Linked DNA regions of Homo sapiens. The protein of the gene in region 2 purifies or fractionates together with the protein of the main gene of each other region. This does not show direct contact. Each region holds a gene or a part of one and is shown on either strand. Other genes may lie near its edges. The genes, in order: CTPS2, CYFIP2, PALS1, WASF1, CAMK2D and MCOLN2.

Region 1 (3,500 bases), on a different chromosome or scaffold from region 2:
AAAAGCTGGTAAAAGATGTATTTGTAAGCCATATTCTATCACCATCTCCTTTTTGGTGGAGATATTAACAATTCAATTATATCCAAGAAAATGCATCAGAAAATTCTATTTATAATATTCTATTGTGGTTTTTTTTTAATCTACTGAAATTCTGTCTTCAAGATTTAGCTTTTCCAAACTCAACATATGCCACATAAAAAAGACATGAAAACAGAAATTTTAAAAACAAACAGCATTTTACTTCAAAGCATCAGTATCCTGGACTCTGGAACTGCGATAAGAAACTTTTACTTGATTCTCATCTTGATTAAAGCCATAATTAGACAGTAGATGACAAAGCAAGGCCACAGCTAACCCATAAGGCAACTTGGTGAAAGTGAGGGAAAAAGCCTGTGTGTGCCATAAGCTACGTGCACAATGCACTGTCATAAAAGACAGGTGCAGACTTCGTCACACGAGGAGCACCAACTTTAACTACTAGACACGTCTGTAGATCTCTATTGTCACTTCAGGGCATGGACTGAGAGTCGTATGTTTCTAAAGCCACCTTGTAAGAATTGAACCTTTCCCCTATTAAGGGAACTATCATTTATTCCTACTGTTAGATGTCCACAGGAAAAAAGGTTGATTAACTTACAAATTTAATCAGAAGCCTTTTATATCCTAATTTATTTATCCATTCTAAGGTACATAACTGTGGTCTAGAAAATTAATTTTAAGGAAAAAAGCAAATTGATATCACAATACTTTTTTTTTCAATTTTTTTTTTCAATGTTTTTTTTTGAGACAGAGTTTCGCTGTCAACCAGGCTGGAGTGCAGTGGCGTGATCTCAGCTCACTGCAACCTCCGCCTCCTGGATCCAAGCAATTCTCATGTCTCAGCTTCCCAAGTAGCTGGGATTACAGACATGTACTACCACGCCTGGCTAATCTTTGTATTACCATTATTATTATTATTATTATTTTGAGACAGGGTCTCACTCTATCGCCAGGCTGGAGTGCAGTGGTGCGATCTCGGCTCACTGCAACCTCTGACTCCCTGGTTCAAGCAATTCTCCTGCCTCAGCCTCCTGAGTAGCTGGGATTACAGGTGTGCACCACCACACCCAGCTAATTTTTTTGTATTTTTAGTACAGACAGGTTTTTACCATGTTGGCCAGGATGGTCTCCATCTCCTGACCTCGTGATCCACCTGCTTCAGCCTCCCAAAATGCTGCGATTACAGGCGTGAGCCACCGTGCCCGGCCTATTATTTTTTTAAATAGAGACAGAGTTTCGCCATGTTTGCCAGGCTGGGTAGGAGAATCGCTTGAACCTGGGAGGCGGAGGTTGCAGTGAGCCGAGGTCACACCACTGCACTCCAGCCTGGGCGACAGAGTGAGACTCTGTCTCAAAAAAAGAAAAAAAAAATCATTAAAAAAAAATCCAAAGAAAATTTGGTGTAACACATGGCATTAGTCAATGGTGCCACACAACAAACAACCCCAAAATCTCTGCAACTTACAAAACATTTATTTATTTCTCCCTCATGTTACATGGGGGCTATGAGTCACTTGTGAGTCTATTCTTTGTGTCTTCTCATTCCAGGACCCAGACTGAACGAGAAATCTCTGAAAACCAGGCTGTTCTCATGGTAGAGGGCAGAAGCACAAGACAGACTGAGCCAAACCACACAGATGCATTTGACATTTTCTGCTTCAACAAGGCATATGTTAATATTCCCTAACATCCCATAGGACAAAATAAATCACATGGCCAAATAGAGTGACCAACCTGCTTGGTTTGCCCAGGACTAAGAGGGCTCCCAGGACACAGGACTTTCTGTTTTAAAATCAGGAACATTCCAAACAAACCAGGACAAGTTAACTATCCTACGTGGCCAAACTCCAAGGTCAAAGGGCAGGGAAATGTACTCCACAGAGGGATGGTGGGTAACATTTTGAAGCAAAAATACAATCTACCACAGACTTGAATAAGTCATTCACAAACAAAATCAAAATCAAAGAACTCTAAATTAAAACAATAAGATACCCTCTTTTTGTTTGTTTTATTCTCAGGTTAGTAAAGTTTAAAACACGATATTCAAGGCCTGGTGCAGTGGCTCATGCCTGTTGCAGTGGCTCATGCCTGTAATACCACCACTTTGGGAGGCCGAGGTAGGAGGATTGCTTGAGCCCAGGAGGTCGAGACCAGCCTAAGTAACATGGCGAAATCCCAGCTCTATAAAAAAATTACATAAATTAGCCAGGTGTGGTGGTGCACACCTGTAATCCCAGCTACCCAGGGGACTGAAGCAGGAGGATCACTTGAGCACAGGAGGTGGAGGTTGCATTGAGCCGAGATCTTGGCCACTGCACTCCAGCCTGGGCGATAGAGTGAGACCCTGTCTCAAAAAACAAAAACAGGAAGACAGGATAGCAACAAGGGACACAAACATTTTTTTTTTTTTTGAGATGGAGTCTCACTCTGTCACCCAGGCTGGAGTGCAGTGGCGCAATCTCGGCTCACTGCAAGTTCGCCTCCTGGGTTCACGCCATTCTCCCACCTTAGCCTCCCGAGTAGCTGGGACTACAGGCGCTCGCCACCGCGCCCGGCTAATTTTTGTATTTTTAGTAGAGACGGGGTTTCACCGTGTTAGCCAGGACGGTCTCGATCTCCTGACCTCGTGATCCGCCCGCCTCAGCCTCCCAAAGTGCTAGGATTACAGGCGTGAGCCACCACGCCCGGCAGGACATGAACATTTCTGTTTCTTGATCAGGGGCTGGTTACACAGTGTGTTCATTTAATGAAAATTCATCCAACTGTACACTTATGATTTATGCACTTTTTTGCTTGTATATAAAAAGGTTTTTTTGGGGGTTGGTTTTTTGTTGTTTTTGTTTGTTTGTTTGTTTGTTTGTTTTGAGACAGAGTCTCGCTCTGTCGCCCAGGCTGGAGTGCAATGGCTCGATCTTGGCTCACTGCAACCTCCGCCTGCCAGGTTCAAGTGATTCTCCTGTCTCAGCCTCCTGAGTAGATGGGACTACAGACACGTGCCACCACGCCCAGCTAATGTTTTGTATTTTTAGTAGAGACAGGGTTTCACTGTGTTAGCCAGGATGGTCTCGATCTTCTGACCTCGTGATCCACCTGCCTCGGCCTCCCAAAGTGCTGGGATTACAGGCATGAGCCACCGCACTGGGCCTTATAAAAAGTTTTTTAAAAATAGCATGTAAGGGCTAATGCCATTTTAAAAATAAATCAAATATACTCATACATCAAAATGTCACCATTAATAATAGTTACTCCAGGCAGTGGGAAATGTTAAGAGAAACACACTACCTTTATGTTAAAAATAAAACAGAATCTGTAGTGCAAAAGATACAATGTTTCCAAAAGGGATGATTAATTTGGAATGTCATCAGAGGTATGAACAATGTATCAATGACCATGAGAAAATTCACATATTCATAGCATACGATCTAGTCACTCTAAATCTGGAACTACATCCTAAAGAAATT
Region 2 (3,500 bases):
CGGCCCAGAGGGTCAAATTTAGGGATATGAATGTGGGGTGAGAGAGGTGGGTTATTGAAATAGAAATCTCATCAAATAGATTATTCAAATCTCCATGAAGTCGTGGTCAAGGATTTGGATGGAACTCTAGCCATCTATCAGCTACAGAGAGCCAGCTACCATCCTCAGACAGGACTAAAGATGTAGAAGGATCTGGAACTTTGACATTTTATATGTTTTGAAAGCATGTTCTGCCATCTGGGATAATGTGTCTCTTTTGCCTCTGGAACACATCTATGGTCATCAAGAAGGAAAAGTCAGAAACCAGAATAGAAGGTGGTACCTCCAGACAGGAGGATCTGCCAGTTACTACTTGGAACCTCCTCCCTTCTCTCTTCCCTGTATGATGTATTTTCTTTCATGGCTTAGTGGTAGCTCAAAGCTCAAGGTGACCAGAATGATTCCCTTACAGCAGTGGTTCCCAAACATTGATGTGCAACAGAACAACTTGGGTAGTTTGTAGAAAGGGCAGATTTCCTGGCCCTATTCCCAGAGATTCAGAATTAGTAGGTTTGAGGTGGGGCCCAGGAATCTGCACTCAAATGTGCTACTCTCAGGATCTGACCTAAGGGGCCTTTCATATGTGGCCCCCTTTCCTCACCGGAGGACATAAGTGCATCACACAAACCTCTTGCTGTGGGCACTTCCTTTGGGGTTAAAAATGGGACCATTTGATTAAGGCAACCATTGCTAACCATCTTACTTCCCTGGGCTGGAGAAATATCAAATGTCACATTTTATGTTCTTAAAATCTCAGGGCCACAGATTTCCTTTGACAATGACATGCTCTGTAACATGAAATTTATATCCTAAAGCCTTTTGTCCTTCCTTCTTACCACACTCGGTGGGAGATTCTGCAGAAGACTTTTGGTTCAGTCTAGAAAATGGAAGTAAATGTTACCCCTGGGAGAGAAGCCACACCCGAAAGTCTAACTTAAGGAATGTAAAGAGAACAGCAAGTTGAGAGTAAAAGCTAAAATGTTCCAAGAATCTTTCAGCTTCTAGGACAATGAAGGTTCTGATTCCCTAAAAGAGGACTCTTCTTTGGGGGCAGGGGGTGTATCTTGGTATTAAAAGCTCATTGACAATTACTATTCCTCCTCCTCACCTCTGTGTTTCCAAGACGTTTTGGGCTTCTGTGGAAATAACCCCTTAATATTTTCTTTCTTGTGGAAATGTTCCTTGATAAGCAATTCTGTGCCAAGACGTTGTCCCTAATTTGGTCACTGGCTAATGCTATAGGCAGTGCTATGACTGATTTGTTCAAAGCTGCTTCCCCTATGTGGCCCAATGCTAAGCCTTTCCTGAAGGAATAAGGGAACCATCTCACCATCAAGCAGCTGAGATGGCCTGAAAGCATCCTGTTTGGACTATGACATTTCTGGCTGTGTTCATACATACTGCTTCCCCACAGCAGGCCTGATCAGTCTCCTACCCCACCTGCATAGAGTGTGATACAGCTGTGAATGCTTTTTGGACCTCTCTCTAGGGCTTCCCTGAGAGAGGGGAGTTAGAATGGGGCTTTGGGAAGCCTATGTGGTAGAATCCCTGGTACCCAGAGTGGGAGAAGATGACACCCGGGGCACTGCAGGGAGGGAACCAGGAGAGATGAAGTAGTAAGCTGAGGCATGCCCTTCTGGCCAGGCTGGCGTCTCTGGGCATGGCCACATCTGTTCACAGTCTGAGACTTGAGTCCTGGGGTCACACAAGGGCACTGGGTAGGAGATGTCTATCTTGGGAGGAGGTCTTGGGAAGCAACCACAGATAGGTGGGATGATGGGATGGAGAAAGGGTGAAACTAGGAGTTCTTAATATAGTTGAGGGGGGAGAAAAGAAAAAGCACACACTGCCCTGTTTACTTTTTTTTTTTTTTTTTCATTTATGCTATGGAGAAACCAGCATGGAGATGTCATGGGAGAGCATGCACAGGCCCCGCCCTAGGGAGTGGTGATGTGTTTGGGGAGGTGCTTGTTTCCAGGTCCATCCCACACGTTGTCCAGTTGGATCCTATGGCAGGCTGGCTGTGGCTTTCTCTCTCCTGCTTCTCTTCCTCCTCCAGATAAGGGTCTGCAGGATCTTCTGCTTAGCAAGTGGTGGCCAAGGACTGGTGGATGGGTGGCTGGAAGCAGCGCACATGCTCCACAGTGGAACTGTCTGTCTCCACGGACTTCATGTATTTGTTCAGGATGGCAAAAACCTCATTGTTCAAGATCTGATACTTCCTGATCCGGTCGGCCATCTTCTTCAGGGGCTACAGAAGGAAGGGGATGTTCAAGTTAGGGCAGGACAAAGTGGGGGTGGAAAGAGGGAGTAACAGGAGAAGTCACTGAGGTCCAGGGTCCCCTGCATCAGTGATCATGTCACTTTCTTAAAGTCCTTTTATGGAATCCCCTGGATCTGGCAATCAAGTGTTAACTGGACCGTAAAAACCCTCTCCAAGTTTTAAAACGATCTACAGAGCTACAATAATCAACAACACTGTGGCACTGGTAAAAAGGTAGATGTACAGATGAATAAAACAGAATAGAGAGCCCAGAAATACACTATTACACATATGATCAAATGATTTTCAACAAGGGTGCCAAGACTGTTCAATGGGGGAAACAGCCTTTTCAACAAAAGGTGCTGGGAAATATGGATACCCACACAAAAAATAACAATGGACGCTTACCTTATACCATATACAAAAAATTAACTCAGAATGGATTAGAGACGTAACCATGAGATTAAACTGAAATTCTTAAAAGAGAATATAGGGGAAAAATTTTCATGATGTTGGATTTGGCAATAATATCTTGGGGTATGACATCAAAAGCAAAGGCAAAAAGTTGCACTACATCAAAATTGAAAACTTTCATGCATCAAAGGGACACCATGAGAATGAAAAGGCAACCGAAAAATAGAAAATAATCACAAATTATATCTGATAAGTAATATCTAGAATATGTAAAGAACTTCAACTCAACAAAAATGACTCAATTAAAAAAATGGACAAAGGACTTGAATAGACATTTTTCTAAAGAAGATATACAAATGGCCAATAACACATGAATATAGCACTCAGCAGTGACAGTCATTAGGGAAATTCAAATCAAAATCACAACAAGATAACTTTTTCACCCCTCAGGATGACTATTATTAAAGAATAAGTGCTGATGAGGATGTGGAGAAATTGGAACTCTTGTGTACTGCTGGTGGGAATGTAAAATTGTGCAGCCACTATGGAAAACAGAATGGCAGTTTCTAAAAAGTTAAACATAGAATTACCATACGATCCAGCAATTCCACGTCCAGGTATATACTCAAAAGAATGGAAAGCAGAAATTTGTAGAGTTATTTGTACACCCATGTTTCATGGTAGCCAAAATTAACCATTTTCAAAAATACCCAAAAGGTGACAGCAACCTGAGTGGACAAACACAACGTGGTCTATATACACAATGCAATATTATACAGCCATA
Region 3 (3,500 bases), on a different chromosome or scaffold from region 2:
TCTGTAACTAATAAGCGATGTGATCCTTCTTCATTTAAATACACTCCTTGTTAGATTATGGCATTAGACTAAATGAAAAAGTCCCATTCAGATAAAAGTCTATTATGCCCTCCCTACATATTATTATAGTATAGAATAATCTAAAGTTTTACAAACTAGTCTGGGAAATCCAATCCTTCCTTTTTTTAAAAAGGCCGAGAGAAGGAAACTGTACGTTTGAATAATGTATGCATTTCCTAGATCAAATGTGCCAGTTACTCAGGAAGTGAAATACAGAGGTGCCAAGACTCTTGCCCTCTGCTACTGAAAGAGCAGCCACTGATTGCTATGTGTGATACAAAAGAAATTTAAGAACTCAAGAGAGCACTTCTGACACAGCTTATTATTGCCATACATGACATCATAATTCAACAAGTCATTATATAGGGGTTTCAGATAACACTTATTTTGTATATCTGTCTTAAACACATTTCTAACATCACAAAACATAAATCAGGAAGATATCTGCTGCTGCTGCTATCAACAGATGCTGACCTGTACCATAATGATACTCAATAAATTGGTTCTAATTTCTTTAGATTATTAATTCCATAGATAATTATTCTGCATATGTCAACCAAGATTATGATTTCCTATTACTGTTTCCTTTCTGGACAGCCTCAATGAGCTTTAATAATAGCAGTTCATTTTAAGCCAGTTAGGTCTGACAAAACTTGGCAAGATATATTGCAATTGAGAGTTATTCATAATAAAAAGAGAAAAGAAGGGGCTGGGCATGGTGGCTCATGCCTGTAATCCCAGCACTTGGGAGGCCAAGGTGGGCGGATCATCAGAGGTCAGGAGTTCAAGACCAGCCTGGCCAACATGGTGAAACTCTGTCTCTACTAAAAATACACAAACACACACACACACACACACACAAATTCAGCCAGGCATGGTGGCGGGCGCCTGTAATCCCAGCTACTTGGGAGGCTGAGTCAGGAGAATGCTTGAACACAGGAGGCAGAGGTTACAGTGAGCCAAGATCGCACCACTGTACTCCAGCCTGGGCGACAGAGCAAGACTCTGTCTCAAAAAAAACAAAAAACAAAAGAGAAAAGAAGGAAAAGAAAAATACTGCACATCACTCTATTCTGAAAAGATCCCTACTTTAAATATGAAAATAGGCCGGGTTCGGTGGCTCATGCCTGTAATCCCAGCACTTTGGGAGGCCAAGGCGGGCAGATCACCTGAGGTCAGGAGTTCGAGACCAGCATGGCCAACATAGTGAAACCCCATCTCTGCTAAAAATACAAAAATTAGCTGGATGTGGTGGCATGCACTTGTAGTCTCAGCTACTAGGGAGGCTGAAGCAGGAGAACTGCTTGACTCTGGGAGGCGGAGGTTGCAGTGAGCCCAGATGGTGCCACTGCTTGCCTCGGTGACAAGAGTGAGACTCCAAGTAAAAAGAACAGAAAAAGCTCCATTTTAAAAGGGATAGATGTGGCATTTTGCTCTTTCTCCCACTTTCTTCCTTTTTAAGCTACTTCATTTTCCAGTTAAGTAGTTCCAGAGATTGTTCACCATGAACCTATATTCCTTTGGTCTTCAGATTAAACCAGCCTTTTATTCTTAATCAATAATGAAAGTTGGGGGTTAAATAACCACTAAAGGATAAGTAAGTTATTTCATTCTTAGGTTGAAACAATCTGTGTAAGTTAATTGCTTTGATATTCTGTTTTGCATACAACGAGAATCAACAAGTTTCAATGTAACACTTCGATTAATTCTATCCATGAAAAAAATGGCTTTTCTTTTACAGAATTCCAGATTCTGCATGAATAGCAGGAAAAAAATGTTGAGAAAACATGTCTTGGCTGGGCATTGTGGCTCACGTCTGTAATCCCAACACTTCGGGAGGCCGAGGCGGGTGGACCACTTGAGCTCAGGAGTTCGAGACTAGCCTGGGCAACATAGTGAAAGCCATCTCTACCAAAAGTACAAAAAAATTAGCCGGATGTGGTAGTATGCATCTGTGTTTCCAGCTACTAGGGAGGCTGAGGTAGGAGGACTGCTTGAGCCCAGGCAGTCAAGGCTGCAGGAGTCGTGATCACATCACTGCACTCCAGCCTGGATAATAGAGCCAGATCCCACCTCAAAAAAAAAAAATGTCTTAACTTCTGACATTTATTCTCAAAAGACAAAAGTCATTTACTCAGGAGGGATGGATTATTGTAGATAAGTAAGTAGGAGTATATTCCAACCCTCCTCTGTTATGTTTCCTCAGTTTGCAGAGCTACTTTTGAAGTTCAGGGCTTATACACAGAAGAGATACAGGGAACAGCACAATGCACAGAGAATCAAGCTGTTTAAATTCAAAGACAAACTATATTTCCTCATTTCTCTTCCTGCAAAAAAACTGTAAACATAAAGTAGGTTGCAGATACAATATCAACTTCCGTATGTTCTGTAAAAAATTAAGGGAAAACATGGAATGATAGCCAAACTATAAAGCATACCTGTGATGAAATATTGAGAGAAAAATGAAACTGTGTTCTTTCTCAAACTGCTATGCTTTAAAGTTAAGAATAACAGATGCAATACATCAAGCTTCCATGTTAATTCAACACTTTAAAGTTTCATTTTTAAATAGCTTTATTGATATATAATTCATATACAATTCACTCATGTACACAATTGGATGGTTTTAGTTTATTCACAGATTTGTACAATTATCACCACAAACAATTTTAAAACATACTTATGCCCTCAAAAAGAAACTTGGTACTGATTAGTAATCACCATTCCCTCATAAATCCTCATCTCCACATCTAAGGAATTACTAATCTGCTTTCTCTCCTATGGATTTACCTATTCTGGACATTTTATATAAATGAACCAATATATGGCCTTTTGTGACTGGCTTCCTTCGCTCAGCATAATTTCTTCAAGGTTCATCCATGTTGTAGCATATATCAGTACTGTAGGCTTTTAAAATTATCAAATAATATCCCATCATACATACATATTTTGTCTTTGATTCATCACCTGACAGACATTTGGGTTGTTACTACTTTCTAGCTACTGTGAATGCTGCTGCTATGAACATTCATGTAGACATTCTTATGTGAATATATGTTTTCAGTCCTTTTGGATATATACTTTGGAATGCAATTGCTTGACTGTATGGTAATGGAGACTGACTTTTAACAGATCTAGCTGAGTAAATGTCTAACAGAACAATATACTCTAAAAGAAGGGTTACACATACTTTTTAAAAAGCACTTGCCCTACTCCATACTAAGTTAAGTAAACCCACCTATAACTATAAAAAAAATTCTGAAACTGAAATTATTTTCTACTTTTTATTTTAAAAAGGTGCAGAGTTGGCTGGATGTGAAGGCTCACACCTGTAATCCCAGCACTTTGGGAGGCCGAGGCAGGCAGATCACATGAAGCCAGGCGTTCAAGATCAGCCTGGCCAACATGGCAAAACCCTGTCTCTACCAAAAATACAAAAA
Region 4 (3,500 bases), on a different chromosome or scaffold from region 2:
TGTTTTTATAAATAGAGTTTATTTCAACACAGACACATTCATTTGTTTATGTATATTCTATGGTGGCTTTCATGCAACAATGGCAGAATTGAGTACTTGTGACAAAAACTGTAAGGCCCGAAAGCCAAAAATACTTACTATATCGTCCTTGAAAGAAAAAGCTTACTGACTCCTAAGATAAAACATCATATGCTTGTTCCAACATACCTGATACAGGTGGGTATCGGTTTTGCATCTCCTGCTCCATGCATTGGTGGAGGTGGAGGTGGTTCATGTGGTCTGACTAATACCCTTTCCTCAGCTCTAGTCAGAAGCTCACTCATCTGACTAAATGGCAAGGCAGAAAGTGAGTAAGATCCATCCATATGATCCACGTATGTCTGAGGTCTAAAAGAAATATATAGTATCAGTGAATTATTCTTGAATTATTGGGAGGAAAGGGTTCTACATGAGATATTAAATATTTAAAGTTTATCCTTTCAATGCCAATATTTTAACTATTTTTAAGAAACTTTCAGAAATGTATTATATTAATCCTGCTTTTAAAACAAAGAATGCTGCTCACAATATAACCCTTACTTGTTGATTTAGAGATCTACTATGATGACCATCGGTTATTTTATTATTTTATAACAGAATACTAATTCAACTCACAGGATGAAAAGCATTACGTACGTAATTTAATAAACAAGAAAATAATTAACTTTTAGCAAATTGTGTGGAAAGCTATCTGCCTCTATTTAGTTCTTTACAAGAAGATGCCAATGACAGAAAGGTAGAATAGGAAAATGAGTTTTCTACTACTAGTATATCTCGGTGTGCTCTTAAACTTAAATGACTTCTAAAAGTCTTGCACCAGAGAGAAAGGCCTCCCAGATACTAGCAGCACAGAGGTGGCTAGCTATATTGTTTCTGTCCTTCTGCTGTTTTCAAAGGTGCAAGGGTACTCAGAAAATAGCTGAGTAACATAGCAACATGTGACTTAGATGTAAGCAAAATTTTAGATAACTCGAACATGTTAAGATTTATAAATATTTGCTAGTACATTCTTGGGAAAAAGTTGGATTTAACAGATGTGCACACAGCAAGTCAGAAATTATTGTATTTAGTGAGTCAGATAAGTACCTTAATTACTCAACTGTAGTAGAAATAAATGTCTAAAGTTTATTAATTTTTTAATGTCAATTCTTTCAGTAATACAGATAAATAGTATCTCTCAGATGTATATTTCTCCTAAAATAGGTCAAGATGTTGCACACTTATGGCCCAATCATTTATATGTATATTACTTAAAAGAAAACCTTAAGCTCTTTTCCATTAAAAAATCATATGACTAGGCTGGGCACAGTGGCTCACACATGCAATCCCAGCACTTTGGGAGGCTGAGACAGGCAGATCACTTGAGGTCATGAGTTCAAGATCAGCCCGGCCAACATGGTGAGACCCCATCTCTACTAAAAATACAAAAATTAGCTGGGCGTGGTGGCGTGTGCCTGTAATCCCAGCTACTTGGGAGGCTGAGGTGGGAGAATCGCTTGAACCCAGGAGGCAGAGGTTGCAGTGAGCTGAGAGCACACCACTGCACTCCACCCTGGGCGATAGAGCAAGATTCTGTCTCAAAACAAACAAACAAACGTATGACTATACCCAAATAAGTGTCTTCGTAGACAGATGCCAGTTTAATGTGTTTGCTGGTAGTATGTTATTTAGTTAGGGCCCCTGGCCACTAAGAAAGGAAAAAATCTTTTCTACAAAAGGGATCAATACTTTTGTTTGAAAGTCCTAATATATCTGAGGTGGGCAATGTGGCAAAGAAAGGAAGTCAGGGGAAAGTAAAAGGAACAAAACAGAACCCCTTCTTCACTCCTATTTTATATGCAATAAATCAACAGTATTTCAAAAAAACCCCAGACCCTAAACTTTTATTACAAAATTCTAGCAGACTGTGCCTGAAATATCGAGAGGCTATTGAGACGTCACACTAAAGCTAAAACCCTAAAGATCAGCCACTCCAACCACTTCTTTCTAAGATGACAAAACTAAGGTCCAGGTATGAAAATGACCTGCTCAAGGCCTGACTTTAGTAGGCTCACAGTGGTCAGGATTTTGAAATAATCTCTATATTTATAACAGGGTCTGCCTGTTCAACAGTTTAGGACTCAAGACTTAGAAGTACAGATACTACAAATAAAGCCAATGTTTTATCATTTAAAAAAAAAAACAAAAGTAAAGAAACCTTGTTTCAAAATGAGAGGCTGGGCCATTAGCAACTTCAATATGCTTATGTAAGAGATTAGCATCATCTTCAGCCAGCTCTGGACCTTGGGCCAGCTTCTGCCATTCTCGCCGCCTGTCATGAGGTGCTCTTGGCACTTTTTCTGGTTCATGAGGACGATCTAGATTTTTCTGCTATAACAGATGTATTGAAACAAAGTCAAATGCTTAAGCGCTAATTTTTAAAAAGGAGGTTATAACAATCAAATTAAACTCTAACATCAACACTGAAAAAGACAATGTCATCATAATATAGTAAAAGTAACACAGAAATGGTTTACTTGTACATTCAGTTAAATCTTAGCCAGTCTGCTGTAATCCCAGTTTCCTGCCATGTTTTGTTTAACCCCTAATTTGAACTGATGCACCAGACACAAAACAGTATGCCTAAAGAATACAATTTGAGGTCAGAAAGTCTTTCAGATGAAAAAAGACTCATGAACCCTTGCTCCACAGGCATTAGTTTGAAATTTCTACGATGAATGGCATTGTCTGCCCCTAATCAAAACGTAACAATTTACTAAGGTTATGTTATCTGGGAAGTAACTGATTAGCTAGCCAACACATTAGAAAAAAATCCAATTATCTAATTAACCGATAATAACTATATCACTCAACAGAAAACATTGTCTTTAAACAATAAAACAAAAAGTGATTCAAAACTGGGGGAGAAAGTACAGAAAGGGCTAGAGTAAGTGTAACAAATTCAAACGCCCAAAGCGGCCAAGCGGATAACATACATGAATGAAGCCAGTCGGGTGTAAGATGGGGCATGAGGTGAGCTAGACAGACATGTCCATCTCAGGCACTCTAGTTCCAAAATTTAAAAACCTCTGTGTTTGGCAAACAAAACACTCCCTACAGGCATAATCTGGCTTGCCAGTCACCAATTTGCAAATGTTAGCTAGAACACTGGGTTACCATCTAGCAAAGAAGACAATACAATGGCATTATACAGGGATTAGGGAAAGCAGAGATAGCTACAGGAGAACCAGAGAGATGATAAAGACAGAATTTGCCTCCTTCATAATTCAACCTAAATCTAACTTTGCTTCATCCTTCTGTGTTTTCAGTTATCATTAACATGAAATATAAAGCAGATACAAGTGAATTTTATTAGAAAGTGGAAAATGACAATAACAGAAATTTCATGTGAATATAATAACCTCTCCAAAACATTTAGGAGAGAAATGTTTAGGATGTGCTCTGTAGCAACAAAATACTAG
Region 5 (3,500 bases), on a different chromosome or scaffold from region 2:
AAAGCCTTTGCTAGAAGTTATTTTCCTCACACAGTATTTCACTTCTTAGTCTGTCAAATCTACCTCCCCATAAAAATGTAAAATTTCTTACCTTTAGTTTTCTTCTAGCATTAAATTTCTTCAAGCAGTCTACAGTCTCCTGTCTGTGCATCATGGAAGCAACAGTAGAACGTTGCTAGAAGAAGAGGAGAAAAAGTAACTTAATTGAGAATATTTAAAACACACTAAGTATAATAATGTCCCTGACTTCATCAAATATTTATTAATGGTGCTGCACCTGCAGGATCAACTTCTAAGTATTCAATTGCCAAAGTTACCTAAAAATAAAATTTTAGTTTTGCCAAGACTACTTGTGACCAAGATGCAACACTGACGTATAGAAAGTATAGAAATGGGCCGGGCGCGGTGGGTCACGCCTGTAATTCCAGCACTTTGGAAGGCCAAGGCGGGTGGATCACGAGGTCAGGAGTTTGAGACCAGCCTGGCCAACATGGCGAAACCGCATCTCTACTAAAAATACAAAAATTAGCCGGGCGTGGTGGTGGGCACCTGTAATCCCAGCTACTCGGGAGGCTGAGACAGGAGAATTGCTTGAACCTGGGAGGTGGAGGTTGCAGTGAGCCAAGATCGTGCCATTGCACTCCAGCCTGGGTGACAAGAGCAAGACTCTGTCTCAAAACAAAACAAAACCAAACCAGAAAGTATAGAAATGAATATTAATAATTTCTCAAATTATCTTTATTTTAATGTCTTCAATCACATTTTGATTGAGCTGCCTTTCATTTACTTAGTGCCACATTTATCACCTTAGCATTTGACACATTTGGAAATTTACTGAAGTCTCCAGATCCCCCTCAAATTTCACACTATTCTTCTTAATATTTCTAAAATATATTCAGACTACTATGACCATTATTTTACGCCACTGAAACTCTACTGTCAGCTGCCAAACTTCATACTTGTTTCTAAAGTTGCCTAATGATAAATAATTGAACTTTGTTAAATCTTTTCTTCTGGGACACATTTAATTTTGGTGTTATTTTCTTAACCTTGTTCATGAGTATTGTTAATAATTGATATGGAGAATACTCATTCCTTTTGTTACTGCAAGCAATATTTATTTAAGAATCTATGCAATTCAGACTTTGCTACTGAAAATTGCATTTTTTCACCATCATAAAATTAATTTTCTTAAACACCTCGAGTCAAAAATTCATTCATTCTGAGTTTCATCTTTTTTTGCAAAGCTATTTTAAATCCATAAACAATATATTAAAGGAGAGCTTATTTTTCATTTTAGTTCTTGAAGTTTTGGAGAAGTTTTACTTACACAGATCCATGGGTGCTTCAGTGCCTCTGAGGCTGTGATGCGTTTGGCAGGGTTGATAGTAAGCATTTTATTGATGAGGTCTTTGGCTTCAGGAGTCACCGTGTCCCATTCTGGTGATGGAAACTTCAAAAATATAAATTTATAAAAAGTTTAAAAAATAGACACACTCGATCAAACAGGGAAGAGTCAACTACATGAATCATTCCCTCAAGTAGTGAATTTCTTCATAAATTTACTTTTTATATAAGTTAAGTTGTATCTAAAATAAATAAAACCATTTAGATCTATTCTCCCCCTCTATGTAGACAACTATATATATTAAAGAGTATCTGATAAGGGACCAACATATGTACTGAGCTGCATATCACATATGGTAAATACATTTTAAAATTCAGAAAAAAAGAACTTAAGAATCTTCTATTCTTCTCAAAGTATCTCTGCTTTGATCTGAAAATGAAATTTTATACAATCTTTCTCATAATTATTTGCAAAACTTAATAAAAGCAAACAGGTTGCTACATGTACCAATGTCATCATGATATTATGCCAAGGTTCAAAATGAGGTATTATATACTTTCACAACTCATAAGCAGTAATAGCAGAGGTAATAAAACAGCTTCAATTCCTGTGCCAAAACTGACCTATTAATCAGGGCTACTTGGAGTGCTGTAGTGAGAAGAATCTGAGACTACAGGAGCTTCAGCAAGATTTCATTTTAACCCTTCAAGAAGTTTAATCTGCCCAATTACAAATTTCACCAAAGTATATGAAAGTAATCAAATCTTATAACTTCCCATTACTAATACTTTTTTATATTAAGACTATATAAGAAAGCTACTTCTCCTTTCTTTACATTATTTTTTGTAGTGATAATTACTTAACTTACTTTTATATGATTAGCATATTTAGTAGAAATACTGTCCTTCAACGATGAAGGGAAATTTACACCACATTAGTTGCAAAATGATAGAATATCAGGTTATTTTCCCAATTCATGAATTTGTATGGACAATCTTGAAAAATAAAGCCATTGCCACTGTGTCATGGAATTAAATTAGTCCATTTTTAGTAGTTTTAAAATGGGGAACTTGTGACTCACTGGCATAATAAAGCATGAGAAAAATGATATTGACTCTAATATCTGTAATTTTTGCCAGCTAAACAATTGCCATTTTTTAATTCCTGAAGCTTATCTTTGGCAGTTGTAAAAGCTTGCTAACTATTAGGAGCTGTTAAAGAAACACACGAGGCTGTTTCTTAATGTTGTACAGGTCTTCTGATAGCAAATGAGCGGTAGGTTCAGCATGAAGAAAGGTGAACATTTTCCTCAGTTCTCTAATTTTCATGAAAGCATTCCTCTAGGTATACCAAGCAGTGCATTTTCAGGGCTACGTCTGCCCAGAGAGGGGCTGGTTCTAGTCTGTAAAGATGGTGAATGTGCTAGCTATTGCCATGTAAATAATAATTTGTTCCAATTACTAGTCTAGGAATAATGCAATGCTTTGAAATTCAAAGAATATACATTTTTAATTCTTGCTGACACACACATCCATCTAAATAGAAAATTTTTATCAGAAATGCATTGAAGAGTTCACGAGACATTATAGAATATAATAAAGACATTTTATATCTTCTCCTCTCACTTTCACATTGAGCTTTCAACTTGTGCACAAAAGGTGAACCCAATATTGCTACTCTGTAGTTACTCTACTTAATAACACATGGAAAGCATGCCCAGACCCTGCACATGGATTTCCATAGGGCTGTATGAGGGGAAACCTGAGAAAGTGGTAAATCATATTTACAAGAATATGTATCAAAGGAGAGCAAATTATATCATAAACACAAAGTTAAGCCATAAAGAGAAAGTAGATAAAGCCTTCCTCTTCAGATTCTGAACTTAATTTATGAATGTATATATATATATCTACTTTCAAATATTCTAATTATAAATTAAATATATTATTAGAATTATGATTTTCAAATTTTTCAATTGTGAAACTCATTCTTCAAATGAAAGCTTGCATAGTATCCCAAACAGTACAAAAACAAAAAACAAAACCCAGAAACTGGTATAGTGGGATAATGTTCTATTTGATATGTGATCACAGCAAAATATTGTTGGTATATAATATAAAATTATGTGATAGATATTTGAGAATATAATTCA
Region 6 (3,500 bases), on a different chromosome or scaffold from region 2:
TTTTTCAAAAAATGTCAGCATAAGCTGGGCATGGTGGCTTAGGCCTGTAATCCCAGAGCTTTGGGAAGCTGAGGCAGGAGGATCCCTTGGGCCCAGGAGTTTGAGACCAGTCTGAGCAACATAGGGAGACCCCCATCTCTAGAAATAATAATAATAATTAATAATAATAAGCTAGCCAGGAGTGGTGGCAGGCACCTGTAGTCCCAATTACTTGGGGGGGCTGAGGCAGGAGGATCGCTTGAGCCTTGAAGTTTGAGGCTGCAGTAAGCTGTCATTGTGCCACTGCACTCCAGCCTGGGTGACAGAACACGACCCAGGCTGGAAAAAAAAAAGCTAGCATTTATATGTGTATATAGACATTTTAAAGTCTAGAAGCATGTGAGCCAGCCAAAAAAGCCTCCATATTTTTATAATCTCTGTGAAGTAGTATTATAGGTAATCTTAATTTTCTTCATTAAGTTTTCCATATTTTTTTCATTTTTGGTGGTTAACGTATGAATTCTTGAGTTATTATTATGAGTTAAAATGGGCCATTTCAAAAAGAAAGAGTCTGGTATGTATCAGCTAGTCAGGTATTTCCCTGCCTTAGTTTGTGCACGACTGGTTTGGGGTAGAGGGTGGAAGAAGTGATAGATACGGAGACTAAAATTCAATGTTTCTACAGTAATGACTGTGTTGGCCCCAGGATAATACCAGGGGCAGTTCAACAGATAAAATGCTTTAGACCATTCCTAACAACTCGCACGTCATTTTTTCACTCCAATTCCTACGATGAACAAATTTTCTCGTGATCTGCTAGTCTCACAAGAGAGGAAGAAAGAAAAATATCTAGCCAACTGAGGTTTTGAGGTAGCTGAGTAGGGCAGGCAGATGTCAATTAAGTGAAGTTGAGGGGAAAAAAGGCAAAGAAGAAAACTTTGGTTCCCTTCTCAGCACAGCTCTCAGAACATAAATGACATGGTCATTCTAACCCTAAGAAGCCCCCTGAAGAAAGGCCATAGGGGCTTTTCATTTTCCATTAGAGCCACTCATGAAAGATGAACATGCTAACCCTTCAGGAGTTTTCCTACAGACAACCGTGCCACCAAGTTCCTAAAAATCACCTCTGATCACCACTTTGCTGCCTCTGAACACCAGGAAAGCAGAACTAGGGCTGCATACTTTTAAAGTGCTTCTTCTAAACAAGCCACACTCCTTTGGAAACTAGAAGAAACAGTTCTCTGAGGAAGAGATAAAGAAAGGGAAACTCCATTTCTCAGCAATAAAGGATTCCACATGCAGTTAAAACTGAGGAAGATGACTGGAATTATGACATTTCCTAACATTTTTCTTTCTCCAATATTTTCAGTAAGAGCCCAACTTAATAGAGTCATGCTGATGACTCTCCCTAAGGAAAAGAAATTATAAAGAAATAATCATTTTTTCCTCAAAGCATTGAGGTTACCTTAATTTTGGACAAGCCCAACTCAGTTTCATGTTGGTGAATCCCTACATTCTAGCTATCTCTAGAAAATCCCTGTAGTTGGCATAAGTAGTACAATTTTTTAAGGCCACCATTTAAATTGTGGGTCTTCTAGAATTACACCAAAGACTATTTTCAAGAATCTTCTGCCTCATGAGTTATCAATTATTGCCTCGCAGATGTTTTAGGCTGAAATTACAGAGATGTATTCAAGGGGAGAAAACAAAACACAACCTTCAAAAGAGAAGAAAGGAAACAGCCCACCCAGCTGAGGGAAAAGGAATATGGACAACATTCGCTGGACACAGTCTCTCATACCAGGAAAAAAGGGGCTGAGGCCCAAGCTCAAAACAGAGTAGAAAGCTCAGCTATAGGCAGGCTGAGAAGAACGGGAAGAAAAAAAAATTCAGATGATTGCCAAAGCAAACAAATAAACAAACCAAAAACATGGCTGTAAACATTTAATACTGAACAGAACATTGTAGTTTGATAAGATGAAGTCTGGAAATAAAATTACAGGCACACCTCAGAGATATTGCAAGTTTGGTTCCAGATCACCACAATAAAGCAAATACTGCAGTAAAGCAAGTCACACAAATTTTTTGGTTTTCCAGTGCATATAAAAGTTATGTTTACACTATACCATAGTCTATTAAGTCTGCAATAGCATTATGTCTAAAAAAACCACCTTAATTTAAAAGTACTTCATACTAAAAAATGCTAACAATCATCTGAACCTTCAGCAAGCTGTAATCTTTTTGCTGGTGGAGGGTCTTGCCTCCTTGTTGATGGCTGCTGACTGATCAGGGTGGTGGTTGCTGAAGGCTGGGGTGGTTAGGGCAATTTCTTAAAAGAAGACAACAATGAAGTCTGATATATCAATTAACTCTTCCTGTCACAAAATATTTCTCTGTTGCATGCAACGCTGTTTGATTGCATTTTACCTACAGTAGAACTTCTTTCAAAATTGGAGTCAGTCCTCTCAAACCTTGCTGCTGTTTTATCAACTATGTTTACGGAATATGCTAAATTATGTGTTGTCATTTCAACAATGTTCATAGCATCTTCACCAAGAGTAGATTCCATCTCAAGAAACCACTTTCGTTGCTCATCCATAACAAACAACTCCTCATCCATTCTAGTTTGATCATGAGATTGCAGCAATTCTGTCACATCTTCAGGCTTCTCTTCTAGTTTTCTGGGTATTTCCACCACATCTGTGGTTAGCAGATCGCTGCAAAAGTAATTGTGTTTTTTTGCCATTAAAAGTAAGGACAAAACCCACAATTACTTTTTCACTGACCTAATACTTCCTCTACTGAAATCTGGACCCCTTCAAAGTCATCCATGAGGGATAAAATCAACTTCTTCCAAACTCCTGTTAATGTTAATATTTTGACCTATTCCCATGAATCATGAATATTCTTAATGGCATCCATGATGATGAATCCTTTCCAGAAGGGTTTACTTTGTCCAGATTCATCAGAGGAATAATTTTCGATGGCAACCTATAATGTTACAAAATGTAGTTCTTAAATAATGTCTTTTTTTTTTTTTTTTTTTTTTGAGACGGAGTCTCGCTCTGTCGCCCAGGCCGGACTGCGGACTGCAGTGGCGCAATCTCGGCTCACTGCAAGCTCCGCCTCCCGGGTTCACGCCATTCTCCTGCCTCAGCCTCCCGAGTAGCTGGGACTACAGGCGCCCGCCACCACGCCCGGCTAATTTTTTGTATTTTTAGTAGAGACGGGGTTTCACCTTGTTAGCCAGGATGGTCTCGATCTCCTGACCTCATGATCCACCCGCCTCGGCCTCCCAAAGTGCTGGGATTACAGGTGTGAGCCACCGCGCCCGGCCAAATAATAAGTCTTGAAAGTTGAAATTACTCCTTGATCCATGGGCTGCAGAATGGATGTTGTGTTAACATATATGAAAACAACATTCATCTCCTTGTACATCTCCATCAGAACTTTTCAATGATCAGAGGTATTATCAATGAGCAGTAATATTTTGAAAGAAATCTTTTTTTCTGAGCAGTAGG

Evidence for each region.
Region 1: the proteins of CYFIP2 (region 2) and CTPS2 fractionate together in Homo sapiens (co-fractionation; one large-scale study listed by BioGRID). This does not show direct contact.
Region 3: the proteins of CYFIP2 (region 2) and PALS1 purify together in Homo sapiens (co-immunoprecipitation; one large-scale study listed by IntAct). This does not show direct contact.
Region 4: the proteins of CYFIP2 (region 2) and WASF1 purify together in Homo sapiens (affinity purification with mass spectrometry; 2 studies listed by BioGRID and IntAct, with this or other methods). This does not show direct contact.
Region 5: the proteins of CYFIP2 (region 2) and CAMK2D purify together in Homo sapiens (co-immunoprecipitation; one large-scale study listed by IntAct). This does not show direct contact.
Region 6: the proteins of CYFIP2 (region 2) and MCOLN2 fractionate together in Homo sapiens (co-fractionation; one large-scale study listed by BioGRID). This does not show direct contact.

What each region holds. Positions count from the first base shown.
Region 1 is NC_000023.11:16,699,170-16,702,669, forward strand, and holds part of CTPS2 (CTP synthase 2), read right to left. Parts: intron 1-3,500. UniProt on the Homo sapiens protein: Catalyzes the ATP-dependent amination of UTP to CTP with either L-glutamine or ammonia as the source of nitrogen. Constitutes the rate-limiting enzyme in the synthesis of cytosine nucleotides.
Region 2 is NC_000005.10:157,391,623-157,395,122, reverse strand, and holds part of CYFIP2 (cytoplasmic FMR1-interacting protein 2), read right to left. Parts: intron 2,291-3,500; coding exon 2,123-2,290; 3' UTR 1-2,122. UniProt on the Homo sapiens protein: Involved in T-cell adhesion and p53/TP53-dependent induction of apoptosis. Does not bind RNA. As component of the WAVE1 complex, required for BDNF-NTRK2 endocytic trafficking and signaling from early endosomes.
Region 3 is NC_000014.9:67,303,935-67,307,434, reverse strand, and holds part of PALS1 (protein PALS1), read right to left. Parts: intron 1-3,500. UniProt on the Homo sapiens protein: Plays a role in tight junction biogenesis and in the establishment of cell polarity in epithelial cells.
Region 4 is NC_000006.12:110,103,171-110,106,670, forward strand, and holds part of WASF1 (actin-binding protein WASF1), read right to left. Parts: intron 2,410-3,500; coding exon 2,237-2,409; intron 388-2,236; coding exon 208-387; intron 1-207.
Region 5 is NC_000004.12:113,513,739-113,517,238, forward strand, and holds part of CAMK2D (calcium/calmodulin-dependent protein kinase type II subunit delta), read right to left. Parts: intron 1,454-3,500; coding exon 1,331-1,453; intron 176-1,330; coding exon 92-175; intron 1-91. UniProt on the Homo sapiens protein: Calcium/calmodulin-dependent protein kinase involved in the regulation of Ca(2+) homeostatis and excitation-contraction coupling (ECC) in heart by targeting ion channels, transporters and accessory proteins involved in Ca(2+) influx into the myocyte, Ca(2+) release from the sarcoplasmic reticulum (SR), SR Ca(2+) uptake and Na(+) and K(+) channel transport.
Region 6 is NC_000001.11:84,990,614-84,994,113, forward strand, and holds part of MCOLN2 (mucolipin-2), read right to left. Parts: intron 1-3,500. UniProt on the Homo sapiens protein: Nonselective cation channel probably playing a role in the regulation of membrane trafficking events. Acts as a Ca(2+)-permeable cation channel with inwardly rectifying activity.